Linked DNA regions of Homo sapiens: region 1 is linked to region 2. The links come from fine-mapping of genetic effects on gene expression. A gene starts in region 2. The other region holds a variant in brackets. All regions are shown on one strand. Distances are from middle to middle. Region 1 overlaps CA1 (carbonic anhydrase 1). Region 2 holds the start of CA3 (carbonic anhydrase 3).

What was found. PIP is the estimated chance that this variant, and not a neighbour inherited with it, causes the effect.
Region 1: its variant is fine-mapped to the expression of CA3 in lung (TOPMed, PIP above 0.99).

What each region holds. Positions count from the first base shown.
Region 1 is chr8:85,349,164-85,352,078 of GRCh38, forward strand. All of the region lies in intron 1 of CA1 (carbonic anhydrase 1), which reads right to left. Among named protein-coding and RNA genes, the nearest start is that of CA1, 27 kb to the right of the region's middle. The variant A/G (reference allele first, on the strand shown) is at 1,435.
Region 2 is chr8:85,437,429-85,440,343 of GRCh38, forward strand. It overlaps CA3 (carbonic anhydrase 3), which reads left to right and starts at 1,431. Exons shown (of 7, transcript NM_005181.4): 1 at 1,431-1,515; 2 at 2,284-2,481. The coding sequence starts at 1,482. RefSeq lists enhancers at 744-1,267, 1,268-1,790.

The DNA.
Region 1 (2,915 bases), 88 kb before region 2:
TTCTTTTAGAATAGCCCAATAGAATGAGACCATTTTACTCCTGTACTTTTTTTACTCACATGATCTTAATTTGTAACTTTTAAGAAGTTCGGAGGCTGAGAAAAACAAATATCAGTATTTCCATTTCAAAAGGAAGAAAGAGGCTTTCACAGATGAGAAAATTAAGCCACTTGTCCAAAGTCAGATGAAAGTGTTAAAAGTGGAATGTCAAGTCTTTAAACTCTGGGTCAAGAATTCTTCCCACTATGATAAATTATAAAATCAAACTAACAGTAACTTTTTTTCATTACTTTTTACTTTATTATCACAAAAGAGTTTAGTCGTGTGGGAAACTATTACCTCACAACAGTCATTGTAGTTTCCCTAAAACAGACCCTATAACTTTGGCTTGATTTTGTCCATGGGTGCTGGAGATGGGGTATGGACCACCATTATCTTTGGAGAGAATGCATGCTGCATGCTGTGGTTTTTGCATCTCCACAGCTAGCCTGCCCAGCTCATGAAGCTATCACATGCATCCCTACTGAGGCTCTTTCAGGGCCTACCATTTCCACATTTCTGTGGAGAGACCAAGCTACTTGTGATTTATGCTTCCTGATTCCAGTGTAGCTGGTGAATGCATATTCTACATTTCCACAAAAATCTACCTTATTTCTTCCAGTCCTAGGTGTAAAGGATCAGCCTACAGGATGGAACAAAATAGGTCCTCCTCCCTTCTATTTCTAGAATAGGGAGGAGAAAAAAGCAAAATTATTTATTAGGGTCTTCACAGCAAAATTTTAGAAAAGAATCCTGTCCTCTTACCTGAAGGCAAAATAGCAAGGTTTGAATGGAAATCCTTCCTGATCCTGTTTCCTTTATGCAAAAGGTTACTTGGGCAATTAATTTAGCTGGTCAAGGCCATGTCTTATTCTGAATTTCCTGTTTTACTTTCTAAAAAATTTTTTTTCAAGTTGCTCCAGGCAAATGAGAGTTACCTAAACATATACAATAAGCAGATTTCTAAGATGGGTTTAGCTCTAAGTAAGTGAAGAATTTTCAGGCCTCTTAAAGATGTTTGATATCACGTAACTCTTCTGTCCTCAGTGACTCCCACAGAAGGAGTGCAGGGCAGCTTCTCCTGTGGTTTCTTAGGGCTCTTTTAGCTTCTGGAATCAGAAAATTCTGGAGAGGCTGCTTAGGCAACAGTTTTCAAGTGTGACTTGAAAGGCGCTGCATTTCAAAACCCCAGGGTTATGAGTGAAGAGGTGTTGAATGAAAGGCTCTTAATTGCATCGCCTTGCACCTAGTTTATCTGGCCCTGTGATGGAGTTCCTTAATATGCAACACTTGGACATTGTAATAGTCCTAATTCCTTTAAGACTGTCCCGGACTCTGCCTTTAACTAGTTGGTAAAGTTCCACATAGCCTTTGTGCAACTGCCTGAGGGTTGCA[A/G]AATGAGGGGATGACATGTTGGCAAGTGCCTCAGTTTTCCATCATCACCCAGGAGGCAGCCAGAACTAGTCTGGTGAGAAAGAACTCCAGGAAAAACACCTCCCCAGGTTCGAGTCAATAACGCTTTTAAAATGGAGATCCACAGAGTCCAAAGGAGTTCTTATGGGCCTTATAGGCTAAGAACCAAGCTCAGTTAGAATGAAGCTTATGAATGTGGACTTCTTAGAACAAATAGGGCTGATTTTATGCAGTGATTCGATCTGGGGAAGATGAATTCTTGGCAATGTTCTCAATTCCTCCTATTGGTAATTCCTAGGGGTGCTTGCTAGCCAGGGTTCACGTTCGATGTTCTTACAATGCGATCTTTTGTCACTCCTGTCTCAGGCTCCAAGAGTCCTCATACAGTCCCCTGCAGAGTTGGACAGGATTTTACTGCGTGGTTGCTTGCAGCTGGCAACAGCTGTTGCTACACTTTTTTATCCACATTTATTTTTGTGTGTTAAGATTGTGTTTCTAGTCCTCCCCCAACTTCTGATACTACACACTTGCCAAATTGTTTGCTGATGAACATGATATTATTAGTAAAGGCCAGTGACTTCTTCCAAGGGAGCATTGACTGTTTATGTAGTGGCTTTATGTAGCCACTTCTGGGTATGGCACTCACTGTGCCATTTATTTTGGTTAATGTTTTTAAAAGACTCATTTTAACTTTAAAATCAGAGGTGGCGAATGAAACTTTGCTTAAGGATTCATGTCCCTAAAATGTAATGTTGGAGTAGTAAGGAAAAAAGGAATCATCTTTTAGCGGCAGCTAGGTATAATGAAGTTTGCAGAAAAGAAAAATAGGGTGTATTTCATTAGATCTAATATTGACAGCACTGCTCTAGCATGATGGACATGCCTTCTGTATGAGATGAGTATGACATCCACTCAAAAAACAGCCCAGTGGGGAAAGAAATGCCAGCAATAATAGATGTGACCTTTTAGTGCCTTGGCCATTGGCATCGCCTGAGGGTAATCCTAGATCACCCATTTTTCCATTTGGATGTAGCTGAGACTGACAGGGCAGGTGTCCGGCCTAAAGCAACTGATTTACTGATTTACGAGCAGCTTTCAGTCTCCTTCCTACTTGCCTCTTGCAAAGTGAACTTGAAAATCCAGTTCTTTTCACTACCTCTGTGGAAAACCTAGAGGCAAGCACAGGATTTATTCTTTGTTACTTGTAAGGCTGCTGTTGAAGTAATGCAAAGGTCGATGATTAAATGACATACCATAAAGATTTTTAGTACTGTTATTAAACCCAGTAGGATTAAAATGCAGCTACTGATGAAAGACTTGAACTGCAGTGTCTAGATGAAGCTAATTCCAACACAACTTAATCCCTTCATCATAATATGAACAAGGAACAAAACAAACGGTACCATGGCAGTTGGGCACTGTCTCAGGCACCACAACTTCTGGTTGTTGAAATTAGCTATGGG
Region 2 (2,915 bases):
GGAATGACTCCCCTGGCGTCCAGGTTATGAGTGTGGTCAGTCATTCCACATGCCTTAGGGATGAGCTATCTGTGCCATGACGAGCGATTTCCTTTTCGAGTTTTGTAATCCCCAAATACTAAATACTATTATCAATAAAAGTTAATTAAGGAAATGTATATCGAAATATTGTTCAAGATAGCACTGAAATTAGGTTTATCTTTCCTCATTGTCTTAAAAAATTATTACTGAATTAAAACAGGAGAAATTTTACAATATACTCTTAAAATTGTAAATATCTACTACTGACCTCTTTGATATGAACCATAACCAGACATTTAAAAATATACTTTTGTCATGTAGACACACTAGATATGCCACTTTTATTCTCCTTTGCATGGTTCAATGTATAAGAAAACAACTTAGTAGGGGGAGAAAAAAATTAAAAGCCATTCTGTAAATCTTTCCCTCTTTCTTTTCTTGCAATCTCTCATTGTATCTTGGAGAGCAAGACCACAGGTTTTAAGAAATATGACTCATTTTATGTTAGTGGCCTTCCAATACTTCAGAATATTCTTGATTTTTCATGAACAGAGGTACAGCTCAGGGAGTGTGGCTAAATCAGTCCCAGTCTCCAGCTCCGCGTGAACCTGGGATCCAGACATCTCCTGGATATCTGGCGCTCTCTGAGATCCAGCCCTCGGTTTCCTGCAAGCCAAAAGGATCCGCTAGGTTGGGAAATGCCGCCTGGTGCGATTCCAGAAAGGGCCATCTCTTTAAGGATAACGGACTTGGAGGGCCTCTTCACCCTCTCACCCTGCTCCGGACCCTTTCTTCCCATCCTTTGCTCCTAGGATTTTACATGTTGCCTGCAAAGGGAGTCAAACTTAGGGGGCAGGCAAACAAACGAGTTCTTTCCAGCCTCTGTAACCGGATCGCTAGAGCGAAATAAACTCGCACAAGTGTCCAGAGATCGTAGCCAGACAGCCAGCCTGCGCTTGAAGCAACTTTTAAGTGAGGCTGCAAGAGCCGCCGGGATGTAGATTTTAGTTCGTGGCCAAGCACAACTACGACACCCTGTCCCTGCCCCCACCCCATCCCCAAGAATGCATGGAGGAAGGAGAGAGGACGAGGTGAGGGCCGCCTGCATTTCTGCACGTCGGCGCCGGTTAGAAACCCTGCAGTTTTGAGAGAGAAGAAGAGGAGATGGAGGGGCCAGGAGCCACGACTCCCGGGAGAGCGCAGGGAGGGGCGTGGGTGCCCCTTCGCCCACCTCCGCCCCCGTCACCTCGACAGCTGTCCCGCTCTTGGAATTCATTGGCTTCCTCTACCCGGCCTCCCAAACACCACCCCAATCTAGTTTAGCCCCCCGCCCCACCCTCGCTGACCTAATAAGGCCATGCAGTGTGCGGGGGAGCTACATAAAAGCGCGGGCTCGCGGCGACTCTGCACCACGCAGGGGAAGAGAAAGCAGGAGCCGTCCAGCACGGAGGAAGGCGACCATGGCCAAGGAGTGGGGCTACGCCAGTCACAACGGTGAGTGCAGGCAGCCGCGACCCGGCCAGGAAGGGATGCCAGTCCAGGAGAGCCCTGCCATTGCACAGAAATGGGCAACTTTAGAGACTGCAGTGGAAAATGTAGGAGTAGAATAAGACCTAACATTTACTGAGGCTTTTCAACTGCCAAATGCTGCTGCTTCTTTTTTTCCTTCATCTCATTTGGTTCTCCCTAGTATGGAGTTTTTATTTCCCTTGGAGAAAACTGAAGTGCAGAGAAGTTGGATCACTTGCCTAAGATCCCATTGCCTCTGAGAAGTCAGACAGCCCGAGGTCAGGTGTGACTGGCCCTTATTCTGTTTTACTGGACAAGCACCTAACCTGAGCTTGGTGCCGGTGTGAGAATCTCTGCTCTGCCTAAGCTTCTCCCTAATCCAAGGCAAAGGAACATGGGTGTGCTCTGAAACCCACAACACAATGCTCAAATGTAGGTGGTCAATATTATTTTATTCCAACTCTATGATGGAAGGTGTCATTGGTTAAAAAAAAATGTGATAAAGTTTATCTGAAAAATAAGCCTTTGAGCAGGCAGAGTGAACACACTGAGTTAAATAGTCTCCATGTGTGCTATTCACAAAACTACCAACAGGCCTGAAATGAATGCTAAGTCTCTTATTGCCCAGTCTGAAACCTAAGACCTTTTTGAAATCACTGTCTAGCCTCTCTGTATTTTGCTGGTTTAGTCAATTAGAAAGAGGCCTTGGGTTGTGCCACCAAATAAATACATCTCCTCGACTTTATTTCCTAGGTCCTGACCACTGGCATGAACTTTTCCCAAATGCCAAGGGGGAAAACCAGTCGCCCGTTGAGCTGCATACTAAAGACATCAGGCATGACCCTTCTCTGCAGCCATGGTCTGTGTCTTATGATGGTGGCTCTGCCAAGACCATCCTGAATAATGGGAAGACCTGCCGAGTTGTATTTGATGATACTTATGATAGGTCAAGTAAGTATGACAATGAGGTAGAATCACATGGATGTTTTCAAGGTCCATATTGACAAAATGTGGTTTATGACACAGTACCAGAATTAATGGGGAGAGGGAGCACTTTATCTTTTAAAATGCAGATGACATTTGACTTTGCTTTAGTCATGAATAATTATATTTATGTATTGAAGAGGAATGTCACACCCTCCAAACTTGGTCTCTGTGAAAACGGCCCCATGTCCAAGCTAAAAGTTGGCAATGCATTCCTGAAATGGAACACGATAGGACAGAGATGACAATAAACTCAAATGAGTATTCTTCAGACTCCGATGGCCTATACCTGAGGGTTCTTGTGCTTCTTGTCCATGGTCTGGAGAGCCAGGCTTCCACTCTCAATTGCATAGATTCCATTCTACAAAGCCAGATATACAATAGAAACCCTAAATAGGCAC